Linked DNA regions of Homo sapiens. The protein of the gene in region 5 interacts with the protein of the main gene of each other region in a pairwise test. Each region holds a gene or a part of one and is shown on either strand. Other genes may lie near its edges.

Region 1 (3,500 bases), on a different chromosome or scaffold from region 5:
AGATTCCTATTCTTCCAACTCATCCTACACTTATCACCAGAAAAAATATTCTTCTTCCCTACTCAACCACTTTCAATAACTCCCCACTACCTAGCAAAGCCCCAAATATCCCTTAGTCTCATATCCAAAAACCTTCCACAATCAGGCCTCACACTCCCTACTTAGATGCACCTCCCATTACTCCCCAGCATACAGGCTATATTCCAGCTAAAGGCAGGTCTCTTGACTTCTGGAATGTCCTATCTGGAATGTCTTCTCAATGACTAATTGAGAGTCTCTATCAAAATCCAGTCATCTTCCCAAGGCCAAAATGGAAAGTCAAAATGGGAAATGAAGAATTTTCAATAGATTTTCCCTATAAAAGGATCCTTTTATAGGAAACAATCAATAATACATAGAAAAACAATCACTGATACACAGAATGGACAGTGTAAAATAAGCATTACATATTATAAAGTACATTTCAAAAAATTGCATAGCCAAATGATAAACCATATTTCATAAGATTCATGACACTGATTATAAGAGATAACATCATGTTGTATAGCACTCTGCCAATTAAGCTATGACTCACACATTTTTAGAAACTGGAATTTTCATTTTCTTCTTATCTAAAGAACTCTGATTGAGTTATTCAACGCATAAAGAAAATATAAACAAAATAGATTGGCCAAGGTGTTCCCAAAAATTCTTACATATTCAGAATCCAACTCTACCAAATTGCACGTCAACTAAGAGTTACTGCTGTCTATGCTTTTCCACACAATATCAACTTGGGTCACCACGAGCACTAGAAATGTATCACTTAAGAGTGCTCCATTACTGTCTCCAGGATTTTCTCCAATCCACTAACATCCAATGTCCAATTTTTGATGCATATTCACAAACAATGAATTAAGTTGCCAGCTTTTTCTCTGCAACATGGCTGAGAGCCATGTAAGACATATCCCAATTTCAGAGATGTTAAATGTGAAAAAATAACTTTCTTTTAGAAATGATGAAATTTGGGGCTTGAATCAAATACAAAGAAACTCGCTATTTGAGGATGTAAACACAGGCATGTACAAAAATGACCAAAGAAGAGAGAGCTAAAACAGAAAATAGTTTTCCTCTCTTTAGTTGAATGCTAGGAGATCAATATCATCTCCCAGCACTAATCCTTTTCAGCTTTTGTCACCCTACCATTTGATCCCTCCCCTCTTCAGAGGACACCCTCCACACTGATGTCCTCCATGACACCAATTAGAGCTGGCAGGAAAGGAAACCGACTCCCTGCAGTTCTTCCCTCAAAGAAACCATTCTTCTTTTCTCTTGGTACCTGCAGAATTCTCTTCCCTGATATGGCAAAACCTCTAGGATCTACCAATTTGAGCTACAGACAGAGGTAACAACCTTGTTATGAAGAGGACCACGCCATTAAAAATAATGACTACATACATGAGTCTGGTAATTCTCATTTTTAAATAAAGCAGCAGTGCTTTTTAAGCTTTCTCCAAGATTTTTTTTTTTTTTTTTTTTTTTGGTAGTAAAGCGTAAGTTACAAATGGCCCCATTTTTTATACAATTTCGTAAGTATTTACTGAATGCTTTAAGTGTCTAGACCTTTACTTGGTTTGGGAAAGAAACCTGAAGAGAAATAACTCCCTATCCTCATCAAGCACCCACCCAATATAACTGGAGAGAAAAATATATACTCAAGGCAGGTTAAATATTACATTTGTTTTCTAGGTCTAATATAGACCTTTCTGCTTTCTCTCTCTCTCTCTCTCTCTCTCTGTTTTTAGTTTGTAAGGCAGGGTTATAAGAACAATGTATCAAAATGTCAGCAATCTAAAAATTAAGTTGTCAGCTTTTTCTCTGTACTGCAAATTACAAAAGAATTGGTGCTAATAGAAGCTTACAATTCCAAAGTATGCAATTTAACCAATCATCGCAAGGACTAAAAATGCAACACCAAAGACATTTCAACCAAGTAATCTGCAGTTCTGGCATCTAATTTCAACTTGTCTTCTTGTGCCATTCTTCCCAATTTGTTTCTTCTTTATGCTTTGAAACTGTGCTCTGGAATTGCTACATAGTTAAGAAAGAACTGCCCAGAGCTCCTACATACATAATACACTCACATGAAAAATGTCAGTCATGGAAAAGACAAGGAACATCTGCAGCCATTCTGTGGTTCTTCATTTTTTATGCTGATATTACTATAAATTCAGAAAGGAAAACATGAAATATACTTTATTGCTTCCGAATTTCAGTCTTATCATTTATTCAACACTAATTTGGGTGAAATATGTCTCTGATCATCTCTGCACTAGAATTCTAAATTAGGATTAAAATGCTAAATTATAAAATAATTAGTACATAAAACAAAAATGGAAATGGAAATCAATTACTCCAAATCACTGCAGATATCTTCTACTTATGAAACACCTTTTTCCATTTTTTCCTATTGCCAACTGCAATCACATCACTTAAAAATAAATGAGAACATTGCCTACCCAATAAGTAAATTGCATCTTTAGAGAGACCACATACTTTTTTTAAAAGACATTACTAATAACCTAAATCAAGAATTTAAAAAGAATGCTGTTTTAGTACAAAGAACAGTAAGAAATATGTTGCCTCAATATATAAATAAAAATATACTCATTTTTCTTGTTCTTTAATTTTGTAAATGGCCCTTCTAAAAAATTACAGTTTTCTCTACAAAAGGAATATTCAGTGCTTTCTACTATTTCACAAAAAACAAACAAACAAAAAACGTCTCCTTCCTTACTCTTGGAGACACATTTTCCCATGCAGTCTTATATTCATTTACACCTTTCAATTCTCCAAACAATACCTCGCAATGCAGTTCAACTTGAGAAAGGAGTCTCATTGATTGATCAGGCAAAGTTTTAAAGCCAGCAAGATGCTTCAGATGGTCTGGTTTTGCCTGCCCCACCCTTGTTTCCTTTGAGCCATAGTGATGTCACAACACCAGGCAGGACAATGACTTCACTGCTCCAGTCCTTGCTTCTGAGCACAGAATTCCCCACAGCCAAGGCAAATCAAATAACAGCAGAACCCTCCCGGGCTGAGTGCCTGATGAATTCCCAACAAATCAGCAGCTAGCTAGCCGTTTGAAAGAAATAGATGCAGCGATTGCACGATTAAGGATCTCTCTAACTGAAGTGGTGCTAAAGATAAATTTGATTCATAGGTTTCAATGGTGAGTCTATATTTCACGGAAAACTGATGGGGTACTTAGGGGAGACTATGGGAATTAAAGACGGCCAGGGTAGATTACTCAAGAACCCTCTCTCCGCCGGGCGCGGTGGCTCACGCCTGTAATCCCAGCACTTTGGGAGGCCGAGACGGGTGGATCACGAGGTCAGGAGATCGAGACCATCCTGGCTAACACAGTGAAACCCCTTCTCTACCAAAAATACAAAAAAATTAGCCGGGCGTGGTGGCGGGCGCCTGTAGTCCCAGCTACTCGGGAGGCTGAGGCAGGAGAA
Region 2 (2,615 bases), on a different chromosome or scaffold from region 5:
CGTGACTCCGGGCAGCCGTTCCCCTCCAAGGCCGTCCCTGTAGACGGGGAGGGGCTGCTGGGGACTAGGGGCAGAGGCTGTGAGGCCAGGGCTGTTGGAGTCCTCGTGGGGCCTGCAGTTTGAGGAAAGAGGGAACATTAGCTCCCGGCCACCAGCCTTTAGAAACCAAGAGTGGTGCTAAAATAGAAAAGAATTTAACAGAAGAGAGGGAAGGAGGGAAGGAGAGGAGGGGAGAGGGAAGGAGGGAAGGAGAGGAGGGAAGGAGGGAAGGAGAGGAGGGAAGGAGGGAAGGAGAGGAGGGGAGAGGGAAGGGCGGGCTTCAGGTGGAGTAATGAGATTGATAAGGAAGAATTCACAAGTCACGCGCCCTCCAAATGGAGACAGCCGTTGCCCTTACTTGACCTCAGTTATCTGGCTCTCGGGGTGAACGTCCTTCCACAGTCTCCATCTTGGGCTGGCTGCCCGGAGCCCGCATAGTTGTCAGATTGAATTTATCCTGTATCTTAGTTTCCTCCTTTATACTCTGAAATGGGGAGTCCACAGACCATAATAATCCCAGAATCTGAGACCTGGAGAGGACCTTGGAGAGCAGGAAAGCTCTCTCCCAATTTTGAAGCTGAGGAAACTGAGGCTCAGAGAGGGTGAATGACTTGCCCAAGGTCACCCAGCACCTCAGAAGGGATGAGTGCCTTCTGCCGGCACCGAGGCTGCCTCTCCACAGCGCTGTGCCACTGGACTGCGCCCTCCATGCCTTCAGAGCCTCATGCTTCTGTCCTGGGCCCTCCTGGGTTTACCTTTGTGGCCATGAGCACCAGGTGGCCATCCCTGGTAGCAGGCGCCAGCCCCAGGGCCTGGACTTCGAGGACCCAGGCAAAGTGTGTGGGGGGTGCTGCCTGGCCACAGGGCGGCCCTGCTCAGCCCCCGCGGCCCCGGCCCCTGCAGTACATGGAGAAGCTGTCCCGGCTGGCGTACCACCCCCTGAAGATGCAGAGCTGCTATGAGAAGATGGAGTCGCTGCGACTGGACGGGCTGCAGCAGCGATTTGATGTGTCCAGCACGTCCGTGTTCAAGCAGCGAGCCCAGATCCACATGCGGGAGGTAGACCCGAGGCTACGACCCCCACCCCACACCCTGTCCACTGCCTTCCACAGGCCCCCTCGCCCAGGGGGTCCCTTCTGCTCCGTCCCGTCATGCCATAGCCACGCTTGCCTGGCACGCTCTCTCCTCCTCTGCTTGGAACATCTGTGCCTCTGCCCACCTGGCTAATTCTGACTCACTTCCCAGGTCTCAGCTTAGAGACCCCTTCCTCCAGGAAGCTCTCCTTGCGCCCCCAGGCCCCTTCCCATATTTCCTGTTGCCTTGAGGCAGGGACTTGCTCCAGCGTGCAGAGCTGTGAGTGGGCATAGACCGCTTGCCATTCCTCCCTGGCAGGCCTCGGGGTGGGGGGCTGGTTGAGGATGAGGACCCCTCAGCGGCACCCAGGAAGGGGCTGTGGTCACCCTGGGGGCTTCACATGTCCGCGGTATGCCCTGCAGCAAATGGACAATGCCGTGTATACGTTCGAGACCCTCCTGCACCAGGAGCTGGGGAAGGGGCCCACCAAGGAGGAGCTGTGCAAGTCCATCCAGCGGGTCCTGGAGCGGGTGCTGAAGGTGAGCGGCCCCACGCCCTGCCCCGGACCGTCCTAGGCGAGGCCGAGCCCCGAGCCTCATCCCCGGCCACCACCAGGATTGCTGTCCCTGCAAGGAGGCGCCATGGTCCTCTTGTGCGGATGAGGACTCGGAGGCTTGGGTCAGACCACTGGCCTCGTCCTACCCTCAGGGCCAATGGAGCCCACTGACCTGCAGACCCCCGACCCCCTTGTTCCCTGCAGAAATACGACTACGACAGCAGCTCTGTGCGGAAGAGGTTCTTCCGGGAGGCGCTGCTGCAGATCAGCATCCCGTTCCTGCTCAAGAAGCTGGCCCCTACCTGCAAGTCGGTGAGCAGCCCCCACCTGCTCCAGCCGTTTGGGCCCTAAGTTGGGGGATGGAGCCCACAGGCCTCCCTCTACCCTTGGCCCTGACCTCTCATCTCTGCCGCCCCACCCGGGCAGGAGCTGCCCCGGTTCCAGGAGCTGATCTTCGAGGACTTTGCCAGGTTCATCCTGGTGGAAAACACGTACGAGGAGGTGGTGCTGCAGACCGTCATGAAGGACATCCTGCAGGGTGGGTGCCGTCCCGGGGTGGGGACTGTTGCCAGGAGGATGCTGGGGGCGCAGCTGAGAAGTGGTGGCAGCTGAGGGGGTCAGCTAAGGCTCAAAGAAAAGCCCAGACTTGCACCTGGGGTCTGGGTGAAGCCCACTCTTCGCTGTGTGGCCTCCGGAGCAGCCTTAGCCTTGCGTCTCTGTGCTTTAGTTTCTTCTCGCGTCCTTGGCTTTGCTGGGAGGGTCAGAGGAGTGATTAGATGACATGTGGTCAGCAGCCTGGGCCTGGAGATAGCATCACGGCCTTGCTGCTTTCAGCAACGAGGCCTGGAATGAGTCACATCCCAACCACAGACCCCCAAGGCGGGATGAGACGGGTCTTCTTTGAGCAGAGTCCAGCACAGGGGCGGCTGTGGGATCAGTGCTGTGT
Region 3 (3,500 bases), on a different chromosome or scaffold from region 5:
CCAGCCAGCTCTGCTGCTGGGCAAATGAGTCCGAGGCTCTGGCACTCACTGTCCTCCTCTGTAAATAAGGGGTTCTAGTGATTCACAGTCCTGGATAGACTTTAGAATCTCCTGGGAAGTTTGTTTTTTAATACCAGAGCCTGGGCCACCTCTGGAGATCCTAAGTCAGTTGGTCTAGGTATGTTTTGAAGACTCACCAGTTTGAAGACTACAAATCTGATGTGTAGTCAAGGTTTGAACCATTCCACAAGATGATAAAGGATTCCTTCCTATATTTGGTGCAAAGCACCAAGTGACACTTAGGAATATTTTAGACAAGAGAGCTTGGTTCATGATTCAACATTAGACAGATATTCTGGCACAAATATGAAGAACCCTCAATTTTCCCCTGTGGGTCAGCCACAAGACCAGGGCAATTTAACGCCTTGTCTCATCCACCTCCCAGCTGGCTGCTACCTCCTGCCCCTCTTTGAGCCCTGTGGGGATTTCTAGCGTTCAGAGCCCTGGTAGTTTTTGTGGCCTGCACTGTGCTTCAGAGCACCACTGATGCTCGGCTCCGTGGGGAAAGTAAGCCAAGTGTGACCACAAGAACGCATCATCCACAGTCACTGGGATCTCCTGGGACAGCCTGGGATCCAGGCCTTTGGCCTGGCCAGTAGGGGTGCAGTCACTCCTAGTATGCACATCCAGATCACTTGCTTTTTGCCCCGAATTCTGGCCTCTCCAGGTTTGTTAGAGGTGTCTCACGGAAGTTTACCCCATGGAGAGTTTGCTTATCTCAGATTAAAATATGGGGATTAATCTGGGACCCAGGAGCCCTTAAATGGAGTACCCACAGGGAATGGAGCTCTAGGCTAAGTGCTTTGGGATTACAGGTGCTTTGCTCTTGTTTGGAGGTCCAGACATATGCTTGAGAAGCAGCTTGGGATACTCAAGAGAGGCCTGAACTGGTACCCTGGAGGCCAGGATGAAAACCCAGGCCTCTCCATTTACTTTCTTGGGCCCCAGAGTCCACATTTGGGATTCACTGTCTACCAGGGCACCTCTCTGGGTGGCATCTAGGAGCCGGAGGCAGGCCAGAGTTTCACCCAGGCTGGAGTGCAGTGGCGCAGTCATGGCTGTCTGCAGCCTCAACTTCCCGGGCTCGGGAGATCCTCCTGCCTCAACTTCCTAAGTAGCTGGAACTATAGGCATGTGCCATCGCACCCAGCTAATTCAGCTAATTTCTTTTTTTGGAGACAATGTCTCACTATATTACCCAGGCTGGTCTCAAACTCCTGGGCTCAGGCAGTCCTCCTGCCTTAGCCTCCCACAGTGCTGGAATTACAGGCACAAGCCCCCGTGCCCGGCTTTCAGCTAGTTTTTGTAGCTCATAGTGATTATTCTTGGAGCCAATAATCGTGCATGCATCCACATCTTGAAATTACATGGTGTCACCTTGACCAGTCTGTTGACATATGCAGATTAGGTATTTATGAGATCCAGAGACTTATAGGGGAGGGGTGGATTTCAGGGAAAAGGGAACCTCTTAGAGAAAGGTAGGGAGTGTCTGCAGTTCTGCCTGTGAGGAGGGTACCAGGACATTGCAGGGCTTGTTTGTTGCATCTTCCTGGTTCTATAGAATTGCAGCTAGCTTCTGGTTTATTTTTTCATTTTTATTTTTTGAGATGGAGTTTTGCTCTTGTTGCCCAGGCTGGAGTGCAATTGGCGTGATCTCAGCTCACTGCAACCTCCGCCTCCTGGGTTCAAGCGATTCTCCTGCCTCAGCCTGCCCAGTAGCTGGGATTATAGGCATGCGCCACCACACCTGGCTAATTTTGTATTGTTAGTAGAGATGGGGTTTCTCCTTGTTGGTCAGGCTGGTCTCAAACTCCCGATCTCAGGTGATCCACCCGCCTCTGCCTCCCAGAGTGCTAGGATTACAGGCAGAAGCCACCGCGCCCGGCCGCTTCTGGTTTATTGAAGAGACAGAAAAATACCCCCTCACCCCCAGCAGGGATGTGTGACCTCTGGTGCAAGGGAGTTCATGAAGTGACTTCTTCAGGTTCAGAATTCTCATCTGAGTAAAGGGAGTGGGGGTGGAGTGGGTCATCTCTGAGGTTTTTTTTTTTTGGCTCTGATTTTGGTTTCTGTCTGCCCAGGAGTCAGGAATGGAGAGAAGGGTAATGGTTTTACCTCTTATTGTGGAAACCTGTTGAGATCACAGAGAATATACTGACGGCATAAAAGGGCAGAACCATAGCAGGGTGCGGTAAGTTGGGGAAGAGTTTTTGGAGAGGGTGAATTTTGCATTGGACCTGACAGAATTGTGTATGGGGAAGGGGAGCGGTTATTCTGGTCTGCTCACATCTCTCATACTCAACCTCATTTCTCCTAATTCTGAAATCTTGAGATCCTCTATCACTAAGAAGGAAAACTACTGTCCAACAGGGACACTTTATTGCTCACCCCATATGTGAAAGTTTGTCATAGCTAAGGCTAGGGTGCTTTTGGTCAGTATCAGCAGAATATATGCCCCCTTTCTTTTGTCAGCATTACTCCGCTTACAAAGCCCTTCCATGTAGATGACCTCATCTGAGCTTCCTAACAAAGGAGCTGGTATTAGACCCCATTTTACAGTGTGCCTGGGTAGGGAAGAGAGTGTAGTGGATTGAGCAGAGGCCTTGGCACCAGACACTGCTTCCTAGCCATGTGCTCTTGGGCAAGTTGCTTAACCCTGCTGAGCCTCAGTTTCCTCAGAAGGAGTCTGTATAAGCAAGGGAAGGGATTGGTCATAGAAGTGGTACTGTGTTTCATTTATCTGGTTATGGCAGACTCTCAAAAACAAATGGTTCTATACAACTAACATTGTCTGCAATTCCCCTGAATCCATTCACTTGTTCAGTAAATGTGTATTGAGCTTCTACAAGGTGTCAAGCACCATGATCTCTGTATCAGTGATTTAACCATTTTTGATGGTTACTACAGACCTCTTTAAGAATGTGATAGAAAACTGTAGCTCCCTCCCCAGAAAACTTTTCTAGCTTTTTATTTTGCTTTGCAGTGAGCCAAGATAGTTCCACTGCACTCGGGGGACAGAGTAAGACCCTGTCTCAAAAAAAAAAAAAAGAAAGGAACCATTTCAAATTAGGTGGGAGACATGGAGCTCTAAATACTACAGCATCCATTGCCTAGAAATACAGGTATTCTCAGCCGGGCGCGGTGGCTCACACCTGTAATCCCAGCACTTTGGGAAGCCAAGGCAGGTGGATCACCTGAGGTCAGGAGTTTGAGACCAGCCTGGCCAACCTGGTGAAACCCCGTCTCTACTAAAACTACAAAAAATTAGCCGGATGTGGTGGTGGGCACCTGTAATCCCAGCTACTAGGGAGGCTGAGGCAGGAGAATCGCTTGAACCTGGCAAGCGAAGGTTGTAGTGAGCCAGATTGCGCCATTGCACTCCAGCCTGGGCAACAAGAGAAAAACTCCATCTCAAAAATAAATAAATATATTAATAAATA
Region 4 (3,500 bases), on a different chromosome or scaffold from region 5:
TTCCTTAAATAAATATCTTTCTTTTTCTAGGTGCCATGATGTTAAGTTCTGTCAGCAGGGGATAAAAGAGAGATATTACAAGAAAAAGGAGCTCTTGTTCCTGACTCATGTATCCTTGGCAAGCTTCTGCAGTGGAGGCAGCTTCTCCAGTGCCTAGCTCTTGATATTAATGGTGGTCAGCAACACTCAAAGACCATCAGCTTTCACTGGTGCTTCCTCTCCCTTGGGAGGTTTCAAAGCAGAGTATCTCTAACAAGATATCTCCCCATAAACAGTTTTTTAGAGTACTCCAGAACAGGGATTTATAAACTTTTTCTTAAAGGGACAAATAGTAAATTAGGCTTGCAGATTATAACATCATAACTCTACCTTTGTAGTGAGAAAGCAGATACAGACAATATGTAAATAGATTGGGCATAGCTGTGTTCTATTTAAACTTTTTTTTATAAAACAGCTGGCAAAAGGACTACAGTTTGCCAACCCGTGACCTAGAGGGCATATTTCCCACCAAGTTTTGAAGGATGCATTTCCAGTAAGTTCCACCAGAGCAACACCAGTGACTGCTCTGCTACTGAGTCATGGCCATATTCCTTCCAATAAGGTAAGAATCTTAGCCTTGGCAAAAAAGGTTCTTACTTGGGCACTCTATCTCAGCCCTATCAGTAGTGGCTGCTTCTTAAAACTATTCTTGTATTCTTTTAATTTTCTTTAATTTCCCTGATATAGTCAGTAACTCTATTAAACTTACCCTCTTGAAAATACCTGTGGCTTCTGACTTATGATTGCATCTTAACCGACACACAGTTTATCTTGGTGTTTTTTAAAGGCATTTATCACTAACTGAAATTATATTGATTGTGTTTTGCTTGCTTTTACTTTTTTTTTTTTTTTTTTTAAGAGACAGGGGTCTCAGTATGTTGCCCAAGCTAGCCTCAAACTCCTGGGCTCAAGCAATCCTCCCAACTCAGCCTCCCCAGTACCCAGAACTACGACATGCACCACCATACCCAGCTTGTATTTGCTTACTATTTATTGATATCCACCACTCAATGTAAGCTCCATAAAGGTAGGCACTTTGGTTCACTACTGAATGAATTCCTGATACCTAGCACAATATTAGGTCATAACAGATTCATAACAAATACCTGTGACTGACTAAATTAATCTTTGGCCAAATAAACTGAATTTTTAGAATTTCAACTATTTGATTATATAAAATAGGGAGATGACAATAATCTCTTGCTATACCTGTGCTCACTCTCTCTCACATACACTCCTTATTCATTCATATCACTCTATCTCTGCTTATTGTATTCCCTCAGTCTCTATTCTAAAATTAGTAAATAACTTCTTTGAGTGCAAAAATTCACCTTCCTGTCTTTTAAACCTGTGAGGTTCAAGCAATACAACACAGAATCTCCCTAAGTATTTTACAAGGATGAGAAAACTACTACTGAGTGAGGTGGGAAAGATAGGCACCTTCTCCTTAAACCTTACCCACAAATGTTGGCAAGAGTCCAAAGAGTAGAAACAGTCGTTACTCTCCAAATTAATTTTGGCACTCTTGTTAGAACACTCAAAATATTCCTAATAATCTAATACTTCAGCCACATTACTTTAAAACATTTTTCGGAACAGAAATTTGTGGCTTGCTAATCTATAATTTTTAATATGCACCAGCTACTCTTTTAGAGTCTTTAGCTCATTCTTTCTCTTATATATACAAATAAAAATACTTGAAAATCAATCTTTCAACTTTTCTGCAGGTCCATCTAAGTTGGATTTTACCCCCATCCTCCCACACTTGTAGTCTTTCTTATTTTCACTTTGAAATACTAATATAATGCAATGGTTGCTGGGATGTTCAAAACAATACTAGCACTTTGTGAAGTCCAAGGGCCTACTGCTCAAATTCATCCAAAACAGCTAGAAAACAATGGAAAAATTCTGTTTTTGCTCTCTCTCCCTCCTACCTATTTCCTAATTCATCTCTGCTGACATGAGGGGGATAGAGAAGCAGAGAATGCCAAAGGGCACAAAAAGGGGGGAAAGCTGGGTATGAAGTCTTTGGTGGAAATCACTTCATTTTCTCAAACAATCTGAAGAACAGAGACAAAGGTAACAACACTGACAAAAGGATGACCTTCCAGTTCTTTCCTTCTTTTATACTGCTTCACTTCAGCATACGTTGGTTGTAACATTTCATTAACTCGTAAAGGCTGTTTTTTACTATATAACTTCATTTAACCTCTACGGCCTTGTCTCTGAATATCAAGTTTCACCAGTTGCTTCCAAGCTAATATGTGCCCTCTCTTTAGGACACTTAAGATTTAAAACAGTTTTAGGTCGTCTGACAGTACAATCTCTGTACTTGATTCTGACAACAGACTACCAAAGCCAAGAACAGTTATATAAAATTTTACATTTAAAGGAAATGTTAAAAAAAATGAAAACTTTTCATTTTTGTTTTTCAGAAGAGTAAGGAGAAAATGGAAATATGTAAAACATACTTTCTTTTCTTTCTGTTTTTTGTTGTTGTTGTTTTGAGACAGGATTTCGTTCTGTTGTTCAGGCTGGCTTGCAGTAGTGTGATCTCAGCTCATTGCAACCTCTGCCTCATGGGCTCAAGCCATCTCCCCTCTTCAGCCTCCTGAGTAGCTGGGACTAAAGATGCACGCCACCATACCTGGCTACTTTCTGTATTTTTTTGTAGAGACAGGGTTTCACCATGTTGCCCAGGCTGGTCTCAAACTCCTGGGCTCAAGCAACCTGCCCATCTTGGCCTCCCAAAGTGCTGGGATTACAGGCATGAGCCACCACGCCTAGCCACATTATGCTTTCTTAAAGACTGTCTGGAATTAAGGCATTTCTATTATTTTAGAGTCAATAACATATTTAAGTATAATTTCAATTGTTCAGATTATTATATTCTTGTATTTAATGGTGAGAGGTATTATTTCCCTTTTCAATTTTGTCATATTGCAAATTTCGAGGAAAATTAAAGTTATGTACGTCTCCAGAGATATTATCTAGAGATATTACCAACTGCGTTTTCCAAAACGCAATTGGTAAGAGTTTTTTTTCCCTTGCCTTACACTCAAGGTAGAGAAATAAATTATTTTCCACCATTGAAAAAAAAAACTGCACAAAAGCTTGTCTGGTTCCCAAAACAACTGCTTCTTCTAAAAGTTCTCAATGATTTTCATAGTATAAATGCTAAATTACCTCAACAGAAATACAACACAAGTTTGAAGGAAACCAGAAACCACCATAAATAGCAACTTTCAAAAGATGAGAGTACCTGGGCGCCGGTGGCTCACACCTGTAATCTCAACACTTTGGGAGGCCGAGACGGGTGGATCACTTGAGGTCAGGAGTTTGAGACTGCCTGGCCAACATGGTGAAACACTGTCTCTACTAAAAATACAAAAATTAGCCAGGCATGGTGGTGCGCATCTGTAATCACAACTACTCGAGACGCTGAGGCAGAAGAATCGTTT
Region 5 (3,500 bases):
AACTCTTATTCTATTTAAGGCACTCTAAATGCATTAGTTTGATCAAATCCTCACATGAGGTAAGTACCTCTAGTCCACAAGTAAGGAAACTGAGGCACAAAAAGGTTACATGGCTTGCCTTCATTTCAACCAGCTAGTAAATGGTGGAGCCAGGATTCAAACCCAGGCAAATCTCACTCCCGACCTGTACTCAGGAGTCACCACATTCTTCTGGCACAAAAGTAGAGCCCCTCAACAGCCAAGCTAAGGAATTTGAGATTCAGCATCAGGTATAAAGATTGAGAATGAGGTGATAACTCATTGATAATGCTTATATGCATGGTTCATCACTACTCAGAATCTTCCTCTAAAAGAATTGCATTATCCGATGATATTCCCAACAATATTCACTGATAGTGATATGTATTCACTGACAAGTCCCATGACTACAGTATTGAGTTAGATATTATAAAGTGCTCAGTCAAATCTTTATCAGGAGAGTCCATTGTGTTGACATTCCATCACCACAATTTTTAATCCTAAAGACTTAATTTTACCTGTTATTCACCTAACACTTCTGCTAGAAATACAACTCATGATAATAAACAGAGCAAAGTATGTTTATTTTCACATGTTACCCGAACATATATGACCTTCCTACATGGAAAGCCACTCTGCTCAAATAAGACGTTCATCCCTTAAAAACTTATTTCTCCATCCTAGGTTCAGGTCTTAAAAATCAGTTGGGTTCCTCAGTTACAGATGTACAGGACATTACATCTGGACTCTCCTAGGAGGGCAGGGGTGAACTCTTCCTCTGAATATCCACAGTAGCCAAATGACTCCTTCTCCCACTGTGGAAAACCACAGATGACTGTCTCCTAATGATTTACTGCCCAACCCCCAGCCCACAAATCAAAGAATTGGGTTTAGTGAGAAATAAGAAAGAATGGTGGCCAGTGGATACAAGAAGGGGAGGGAATGCTTCAGTTTATTTTCTTAAGCCAATTAATGATGAAACGGCATGGAGGGAAAGAAAGACACAACATAGTTGTAAAAGACTATTTTTCCAGATAAATGGCCAGATATCAGATTCTGTAATAAGTACTTCCACCTATCAAAACACACACACACACACACACACACACACATATTAACTTGAGGTGGGGAAGAAGATATAGATCTTAAAAACACAAGGTAATATTCAAAAACCATTCTGGATATCACCATAAAATGAAACTTTGAAGCACCCTTGGAAATCAATGAATCTGGACATTGCAAACCCTACAAACTATATATTGCAGGCAGAGGTGTTTGGTTGGGCCTGCAGAATTTTTTAAAATTGAATCAACATTTCATAAAGTAGAGAAAACTTACATAAAAACCCAGATTTGTGGCTTCTCTTAAAAAGTGGAAGACCTGGCGGCCCTGAACCCCCTTGCCCAAATGGTAACAGTGAGCAGGAGCTGAGAAGAAGCTGCCACCTTTAGAGGAGTCTTGAACTGCCAGTTTCCCACCATCCCCGCCACTCCCTCTTGTTCTGAAATACAAAGGCTGGGTGTCAAAAAATTAAATAAAAATAGGAGAGAGCTTAAGGCTTATACCCACCTTGCTTCACTCATTTATGGTACCTGCAAATTTACAGGCTCTGCTCTAGTCTAATCCATTCATTTAAAGAGGAGCAACCCAGCTGCAGTAGTAAAGTGACTTACAAACTCAATCCACTAAAAGTCAAATTTTCATTCAGGAGGGATTATTGCCTAATGATAACTAGAGAGTATGCAAAACTAAATTAGGGCTGTGTGGCTATACAATGCCAAAATCTGTGGGGAAAAGTTGAAATCTCAATCATTTTATTTACACATCCCCCTCACCCCGACTCCAAATAAAGGGCAAAGGAAGATGCTCAAGTTTTCAGAACAAATTTACTGCCTAGTTTGGCTTGGTATGGACAGTTTTAATGTGCCCAAATTTTAGATATGACTTCCCTTCATTCTGAGGGCATAATTTATTGAGAAGACATACAAAATGCTTACCGTAGACATGTAAATACTTTTAAAAAGGAAACTGGATAAAAACATTAAACAGGAGGGGAAAAAAAAGGATGTTTCTTCTTCAGAAAATTTAACTGATAAATTATAAGGAAACTGAAACCCACTAAGATTTATTGAGCATGTGCCTTAGGTACTTTGCACACATTATACCAATTAACTCTCACAGCAGCCCAAGGAGGGTAGTATTATTACTCCCACTTCACAAGTAAAGATGCTAGGCCTCAGAGGCATTCAATAACTTGAAGAGGACCTGACTTTTCAATCAGGGATCATGCCCAGATTCAAACACTGATGTGCACGTTTGTAATGCTTGTGAGAGTAGGGAACATGGTTTGCCCGTGCACAGGGCCTAGCACATTGATATTTGTTGTGTAAGCCTGCCCATCGCCAAAGCACAAAAACTGCCATGTACAAGCACTTTCATTCATAAATGTCATCATTTGAACAACCTTGACATATACAACTAATTCATTTAGGCAGGTTCTTGAACAAGGTTTAGGAAATGTTGGTTCTTTATGTTGTGTAGTTAATGACCCCTACACACATGTTTACTAACATAATAAAATCTCTTTTCTAAATAAATTTCTCCTTTAGAATTGTTATAAAAGTCAGTAGTCAAGAATTTGGCTGAATATACAAGCCAAAAGCACGTTTGCTAATGAATAAGAATAATAACTAAAATCAAAATAAGAATTAATTCAAGAATGAGTGCTTTTGAAGAGTCAGGAATTTGATTAAAAATTCAGTTCCCTTTTTTTCCATAATGAAACAGTTCTTTAACCACAAAACAGCTTTTATAATAATGCCGAAGAGTATGGTTCCAAGCAAAACACTCCCCCATTTTAATCATGGCTATTATTTTTGAAAATGAAAATGACTGAGGTCATTGTAATCTATTTTAGGGTTTGCATGGGTTGATGGTATTTTTGTCTTGGCTTTGAGTTCTCCACATTACCCACTAAATGTTATGGGCTTTACCGTGTGCCCTTTCAAATCCCATTCTTTCTAATAACATTGTATTTTATACACATAAATTAGAGTAAATTCCACTTTCTTTCCTAACAACTCCAGATGTGGTCCACACTTTCAAAAGGACTAGAACTTGCCTTAAAAAAAATTCAGTATGTACTTCTTAGAACAACTATGTTTCTATATAGATAAAAATGCTGTATGGATGTTTAAATGCTGAATAATTAGTAAAACCATAGGACTTGTGGTTTTTTCACCAAAGTGAAATATGAAGATAATATCTATATATTTACTCCTTCCAACTTACAAGGACATACACAGATAAAAAATGCCTAGAAACAAAACCATCTGGGCAGAGTTCTAGACCTACTGATACCAATAGGGAAGGGGGATCTGTATTCAGACAACCATTTAGAACACATCAGTGAGGCTCTCTGTCCCCTGTAGACCCAGTAGACAAAATTAACAAATATCTAAATACACTAAAGTTACACAGTC
Region 6 (3,500 bases), on a different chromosome or scaffold from region 5:
GGCCGAACAGGCATGAATAAGCCTCTTTATTGTTGGTTTTATCTTCCCTTCAGTGCTTGGGAATACAGAATGATCTCTAAAAGTTTACGCTTTATTAACTTCATGAGCCACCAGAAAAATTCCTTCAGTATCATCAGGATAATTTAGCAGAGGTACCTTCAGAGTCCTGATATGATTCTCAGCCTCACTCTTTTCTTTCTTAAAGTGCTTCATAAGCTCCTGGATATTCTGTTCGTGTTTTGTTTTCACACTCTGCAATGATGATGTGAGATCTTTCAGCTCCCTCTGGTGCACATCTCGTTCCAGCTTTAACTGTGTGATGATTGTAGCTGTTTCTTCATCCCTGGATTTTGCCTGTGCAGTGAGGTCAGAAAGGTCCTTAAGCACTGCTTTCTTGGCTCTCTCTTCCTCAGCCAATTTATTAGCAAGATCTGCTCGGATGGCACTCAGGTCCTTGATGGACTCTTGCATCTCAAGAAGTTTAGCTTTGTCCTGGGCCTGGCTCTTCTTGAGCTCTGCAATTTCTTCCTCCAAGTGAGCTTTCTCAACTTTCATCTGGCTTTGGATCTTACTCTGCTTTTTCAATTCGCTCTCCAGTCTATGGATGGTATCCAGGGAATTCTTAACTTCCAATTCAAGGTCAGCTTGATGAGACTTAATATCACGTAATTTCTCCTCCTTGGAGTGAAGCTCCTCCTCCTGAAGGGCACGCTTTGTTAGGACATCATTCAATTCCTTTCGAAGATTCTCTATTTGTTGTAATGCTGCATACAGCTGGGTTTTCAATTCATCCTTTTCTTTTAAAATCTATCAGGTTAAGAACATGAAGCAAAAGAAAAAAATAAAAGTTACTGTAAAATTCACCATAGACTCTGCCAGTCAGCAAAACAATGTTTAACCCACAAGGAAAAAAAAAATTCATCAAATAATTTTTGTATTTTTCCCATTTTTTAATAAAAATACTTTTAGGCCAGAAAGGTGGGGGGGAATATATAATTGTCCTGAAATAGCAACACACTGAAATATGTATTTCAAATTTTCATCACCAAAACTTATTTCAATCCATGGTCACAAATAATTATTTAAATGTAAGATAAAATTGAGCAAACAAATGGGGAAAGCAAAGACTCTCATTATAAAGAAAACTTACTACAGGTTGAAATAATACACTATTACCTAAAATAATACTGATGTACATTCCAATGATACACTTTTAAAAAGGAGAAACCCCAAAACAGAGATGGAAAATAATATAGGGAAGCATGCAGATACAATACAAGAAAGTTTACGGTACATTCAGCCATTATTTTTAAAATATCAATGGTGACGAAAACTCACCAATATGCAACTGGGAGCCTGGAAGCCCACAAAGAAATGAGATTAAGTCAGGAAAGGTTGGGAAAGGGCTCAAGAGAAAAGTCAAGGGCCTAGAAGTCCATCATTCTATGCCAGCCTCTCTAAGATTTACATGGAAGGACAGAGGCCAAGGGTTAACTCTTCTGGCCTCTAATTCTCACCACCTAATCATTGCAAATAAAATAATGGGCAGCCAAGGGAGCCAAGATTGTTTTCTATACAACACTGGCACCAAAGATAATCTCCGTGAAACAGGAGGGAAAAAAAGGAACCAATTAAGACTCATTTCAGAATTACAAATAATGAGTTAAAATGCAAATATTTGCAAGACATTTCTACACTTCACATTTTATACTTCAGTGTAAAACAATTTATGACAAAAATTTAATGAGTCAATCACTCCAAAAAAAAGTTTCCCCAATCCTGCTCAGTTTTAACTGAAAGAAAGAAAGAGCACAAAGATAACATGAGAACTAACAAAAGGAGATGAATAAGCAGTTGAGCTCTGACCAGAAAGAAGTGAATTTGATTTTCAGTTCAATCACGGGCAATTCTATGGCCTCGGGGAAATCATTTCTCTTACTAGAGAAAATAATAATAGCTATTTCATAAGACTGTGATGAAGATTAGTGAGAAAGGGGAAACAAAAAGTTGGAGTAGAATTTAAGTTCGAGGAGGTATTAGGGTCTCAGGGAGGTGTTTATGCAAGGTAGTGATCAAAACTGTAAAAAGAGCCAGGCCCAGTGGCACACCCTATAATCCCAGCTATTTGGAAGGCTCAGGCGGGAAGATAGCTTTGGCTCAGGAGTTCAAGACCAGCCTGGGCAACATAGCAAGACCCCGTCTCTACTGTGAAAAGACGGGATAACTGAGGAGAAGGAACTCTGGAACACAGATGAAGGAGTTCACTTCCGAAAGAATGTAAGGTAGGAGAAATATAGATGAGCCTAAGGGTAGATGTATTATTTTTCTATTGCTTCATAACAATTTCCAACAGACTTAGTAGCTTAAAATACACATTTTTTATCTCACTGCTTCCAATAGGTTGAAAGGCCAAGCAAGGTATTCAGCTTAAGGTCTCCTAAGACTAAAATCAATGTATCAGCTGGCCAGGGCGCTTGTCTGGAGGTTCTGAGGAGAATCCATGTCCAAGCTCATTCAGGTTTCTGATACAACTTGTTTCCATACAGTTGTAGGACTTTGGGTCCCCATTTCCTTGCTAGCTTTTGGTCAGCGATTATTCTGAACTTCTAGAAGCCAACCTTGTTCCTTGGCTCATGGACTCTGCCATCTTCAAAGCTTGAACAGCTTGATGAATCCTTCCGAAGCTCCAACTCTCTCTGACGTCCCCTTCTCTCAATAGCCAGAAAAAAAAAAACCTTCTATTGAGGGCTCATGTGATAAGATTAGGCCCATCCAGATAATGTGATCACAGGAGTAATGTCTTATCATATTCATTGGTTCCAGAAATTAGTGTGACTTCTTTGGGGAGGGTCATTCTACTTACCAAACTGGAGAACACAAGAACTGATAGAATCAAATTTGGGCTGTAAAGATAGCATGGGAGGGACTGAGCGAGGGTAGGGACCTTCAATATAGTGATATATGTTTGAAGCAGATAACTTAGCCCCCTTGGCATGAGTTGAGAGACTTATAGGCAGTGCTGAGGATTAAAATCATATTTTCATAATGAAGTCATACCATGTAAAGTGTCTTTAATTATGAAATATTATATCTTCCTGAAGTTGGATTAAAAAGCAAAGATATTTCTTTTTCACACATAACAGTAAGTCCAGAGACAGGATGGTTCAAGAAGAATCCCTCAAAGCTCAGGCTCTGCTACTCTATAACTCTCCATCTTTTGCTGTCTTTGCAGTGTTCCAAGCTTCACATCAATTCCTGACAAGGGTGACAGCCAGAGGGCAGACAGTCACAGACCATGTGAGTCAAGTTTGGAATTTCTTTGGCAATACAGATACTAAAAACTAAGCTCTGTCGATCTGATTCTGGTTAATTGCTTGCCTAGTAGCCACAGCTTAAGATTCTGTCTAGGCATTTTCTCTGAGTCTGAAAATGTCAGTGTCTTTACTGTCATCTCAATACCCTGGACATACCCAGGGCCCTCAAATGAATAGCCTTTATCT
Region 7 (3,500 bases), on a different chromosome or scaffold from region 5:
ATATCTTTATAGGAATTATAAATTCCTAATTCTCTGAACCAACGTACCAGAGCTATTCCTATGAGGAGGTTATCTAAATAGATTAATAAAGGAAGCCTTTAATAACTAGTAACATTATTTTCTCAAAGTAGATTATTAAATAAATATATCTGTGATACATTTATTATATTAATAATTGTATTTGGGATACATTTCCCCTCTCCCCTTAAAAACAGTTGCCAGTCAGATAAGTTTTAATGACATAAAAGCAGGGGAATAATTTGCTTTACCCTGTATGGGAATGTCAGGCCTTGGTCTTGGCCTTCAGGGGTAAAATGTAGCTTATTAGTACCAGGGAAGAAAGGGAAAGGAAAGTATAAAAATATACAGCCTGGGCAACACAACCAAGCCTCATCTCTACTAAAAATTTGTTTTAAATTAGCTGGGCGTGGTGGTGCACACCTTTAGTCCCAGCTACTCGGGAGGCTGAGGCACAAGGATCACCTGATCCTAGGAGACTGAGGCTGCAGTGAGCTATGATTGAGCCACTGCACTCCAGCGTGAGTGACAGAGTGAGATCCTGCCCTTTTAGAAAAATAGATAGATAAGATACCTTATTTAAGAATATATCCTCCCATGCCAGGCGGGGTGGCTCATGCCTACAATCCCAGCACTCTGGGAGGCCAAGGCAGGCAGAGCAATAAATACTATTGTTGAAATTGTCAAGCCGGGCACAGGGGCTCACGCCTTTAATCCCAACACTTTGGGAGGCCAAAGTGGGCGGATCACCTAAGGTTAGGAGTTCAAGACCAGCCTGGCCAACATGGCAAAACCCCATCTCTAGTAAAAACGCAAAAAAAAAAATTAGCCAGGTGCGGTGGCACATGCCTGTAATCCCAGCTACTCAGGAGGCTGAGGCAGGAGAATCGCTTGAGCCAAGGAGACAGAGGTTGCAGTGAGCCAAGATCACACCACTGCACCCTGCACTCAGCCTGGGCAACAGAGCGAGACTCTGTCTCAAAAAAACAAAAGAAAAGAAACCGTCAAAGTTCTTGTATTTTGCTCTCTGCTATTTGGAAAATTAATTCCTTTCTGACTCTTAGTTTGCTAACAAGGAAATGAACATAGCAATAATAATAAAATATAAATTTAATATATATAAGATAAAATGAGACAAATTAAATGGCTTTATAAATTCATCTAATGGTCCCCTGCCTCATAATCAGTCCTGTTTAGTCATTGTACTTGCAAATATTATACAGACAGTTAATAGGATTATTTATATTCATGGTACTTTCAGTGCCTAGAACTGAGTCAGAAAAGGTGGAATCCGTGGGTCAGCTTTTAAATGAGAACATGCATCACTTAGTTTAGAATCCCCTGCGTGAGTCACTGGGGAGGAGATAGGAGTCGGTCCAGATAAATTTCTGTTGCCATTGGTTCTACCAAGAAAACATGGATCTATCAACAACTTTGGCTTTCCCTGTTCACTTGGGATATGATGCCTCACAGAGGATTAAAAACAAAGATTTCCTTTCACTCTTACTCGTCTTTCTGCTCTCTAATCCCAAACAGACTGGGAGGAAGCTGCACGGGAGTCCACGTAATCCCTCCTCGCCATGCCTGGAACGGGCATGCAATGTGGGCCAGGAAATCAGTGTTTGCTTTACAATCCAATATAACAATTTCAAGCTGGACAATTTAAATCATTATTCATCCTTCTGGCCAGTGACACTGAAATGTATTATGCAGACTTTCTGTGCTAGCCATCCCTAAAAAACAGCAATGCTATCATGGACAAACTGACTCTGAGGTTTTAGGAATTACTTCTCAGCCAGCAGAGTGTAGCTTGTCCTTTCCCTAGCTGTTTAAGTTTTCAGAAATCATTAATTTTAAGAATTCTTTAGTCCTTAAAACAAACTATATGCTGTTTGTTTGTTTTTTGAGACAGGGTCTTGCTATGTTGCCCAGGAAGGTCTCGATTTCCTTGGCCCAAGCGATCCTCCTGTCTCAGCCTCCCTAATAACTGGGACTACAGGCATGTGCCACCATGCCAGACTCAAACTATATGATTCTCTAGAATCTCATGATTCTGATGCCAGGAATGGCTTCTGAGTAAATTCTAGGGTGTTTAAGCTGCCTTCTGAGTAAATTTGAGGGTGCCCTTTTCCTAAAGAACATAAACGCCAAAGTGTTTGTCTCTGAAAGCCATTGTACTAGTCTCTGTCACCTGAGTCTCACATCTGCCTGCTTTTCTGGCACCCGGCCTCACCTCCAGCAGACCCAGGGCCGGGCGCTGGCACCTCTCCTGCAGCTCATCCGCCAGCTCCTTCAGGGCCTTGCTCTGCTGGACCAGCCGGCTCTTGCTCTCCCGCAGTCTCTGCAGCGTCGCTCGCTCCTCCGCCTCCAGCCGCCTCAGCTGCCGTTGCTCCTCCTGGGCCAGAAAGCCACGATGCTTCTCAAACTCCAATCTGAAGCGCTGCCTCTGCATTTCCACTTTCTCCTGAGGTGACACCGTGGATCACATCGTCAGTGCTTGGCCTCCAGCAGCCATGTACAGGACAGTGCTGGAGAAGGTAATGTCCAGACTTCCCCGGGCTCCGTAACTCTGTGGACTCACTGGTTGCATCCTAACAACATGCACAGACTGGAGTCCATTCATATAAGAAGTAGCCCAGGAGAGTTTTCAAATTAAGTTTAAAAAATACTGTTGGACTGGAGTTCCCATTTTGCCACAGGCTTGGGGGCAAGGCACTTTTATACTGAAGTTTCAGTACCATATACAAAATGTGAGGTTTTGGGGAGGTCGAGGCAAGAGGAGTGCTTGAGGTCAGGAGTTCAAGACCAGCCTGGGTAACAAAGCAAAATGCGACCCCATCTCTAAAAAAATTAAAATGAACCGACCAGGCATGGTGGTAAGCCCTGTAGTCCCAGCTACCCACAAGGCTGAGGTGGGAGGATCACTTGTCTAAGAGCTCGAGGCTGCAGTAAGCTGTGATTGCACCACTGCACTTCAGCCTGGGTAACAGAGCAAGACTCCATCTCTTAAAAAATGTGGGGAAAAAGAGGAGTATGTGGATTACAGCTAAATATCTATTAAACTACAAGAACAGTGATTAGCATAGAGCAGTCACACAGCAGAAGTTACTATTTACTACTAGATCAGTCGCTAGAACCACTAGAAACAACTGAATGATGAAGAAATGTTTGTTTGAATAAGAAAAGGCTGAGAGATGAGAAAATATGAATGCTGTTTCATAATATGGTAATAGTGAACACAACCATAAGCCTAACATTCTCTACAAAGCCAAGAAAGAACTAAGTGATGCTCAGGCCACTGATTTCAGAGTTCACGTCAGAGAATTAATCCCAATTTCTACCTGAATCTCACGTCTTCAGTTTCTGAATAGACCTAAGGAACATACTTCGTCCCAGGCTTAGTTTCTAGATTTTCTTCTCTCAAGATAAGTATATCGAAAACTAACTTTAAGCTGAGTACGAGAGGTAAATTATTCCCTCAA

The links.
Region 1: the proteins of MECOM (region 5) and EPB41L3 interact in a two-hybrid assay, tested with the Homo sapiens proteins (one study listed by BioGRID).
Region 2: the proteins of MECOM (region 5) and NIBAN2 interact in a two-hybrid assay, tested with the Homo sapiens proteins (one study listed by BioGRID).
Region 3: the proteins of MECOM (region 5) and TRIM26 interact in a two-hybrid assay, tested with the Homo sapiens proteins (one study listed by BioGRID).
Region 4: the proteins of MECOM (region 5) and HSF2 interact in a two-hybrid assay, tested with the Homo sapiens proteins (one study listed by BioGRID).
Region 6: the proteins of MECOM (region 5) and CEP128 interact in a two-hybrid assay, tested with the Homo sapiens proteins (one study listed by BioGRID).
Region 7: the proteins of MECOM (region 5) and TRIM58 interact in a two-hybrid assay, tested with the Homo sapiens proteins (one study listed by BioGRID).

The regions. Positions count from the first base shown.
Region 1 is NC_000018.10:5,537,498-5,540,997, forward strand, and holds part of EPB41L3 (band 4.1-like protein 3), read right to left. Parts: intron 2,928-3,500; exon of another isoform or gene 2,843-2,927; intron 1-2,842. UniProt on the Homo sapiens protein: Tumor suppressor that inhibits cell proliferation and promotes apoptosis. Modulates the activity of protein arginine N-methyltransferases, including PRMT3 and PRMT5.
Region 2 is NC_000009.12:127,507,459-127,510,073, reverse strand, and holds part of NIBAN2 (protein Niban 2), read left to right. Parts: intron 1-942; coding exon 943-1,098; intron 1,099-1,535; coding exon 1,536-1,652; intron 1,653-1,873; coding exon 1,874-1,981; intron 1,982-2,095; coding exon 2,096-2,207; intron 2,208-2,615. UniProt on the Homo sapiens protein: May play a role in apoptosis suppression. May promote melanoma cell invasion in vitro.
Region 3 is NC_000006.12:30,203,407-30,206,906, reverse strand, and holds part of TRIM26 (tripartite motif-containing protein 26), read left to right. Parts: intron 1-2,141; 5' UTR 2,142-2,251; intron 2,252-3,500.
Region 4 is NC_000006.12:122,402,652-122,406,151, reverse strand, and holds part of HSF2 (heat shock factor protein 2), read right to left. Parts: intron 1-3,500. UniProt on the Homo sapiens protein: DNA-binding protein that specifically binds heat shock promoter elements (HSE) and activates transcription. In higher eukaryotes, HSF is unable to bind to the HSE unless the cells are heat shocked.
Region 5 is NC_000003.12:169,653,713-169,657,212, forward strand, and holds part of MECOM (histone-lysine N-methyltransferase MECOM), read right to left. Parts: intron 1-3,500.
Region 6 is NC_000014.9:80,784,739-80,788,238, forward strand, and holds part of CEP128 (centrosomal protein of 128 kDa), read right to left. Parts: intron 808-3,500; coding exon 157-807; exon of another isoform or gene 1-156.
Region 7 is NC_000001.11:247,863,687-247,867,186, reverse strand, and holds part of TRIM58 (E3 ubiquitin-protein ligase TRIM58), read right to left. Parts: intron 2,483-3,500; coding exon 2,252-2,482; intron 1-2,251. UniProt on the Homo sapiens protein: E3 ubiquitin ligase induced during late erythropoiesis. Directly binds and ubiquitinates the intermediate chain of the microtubule motor dynein (DYNC1LI1/DYNC1LI2), stimulating the degradation of the dynein holoprotein complex.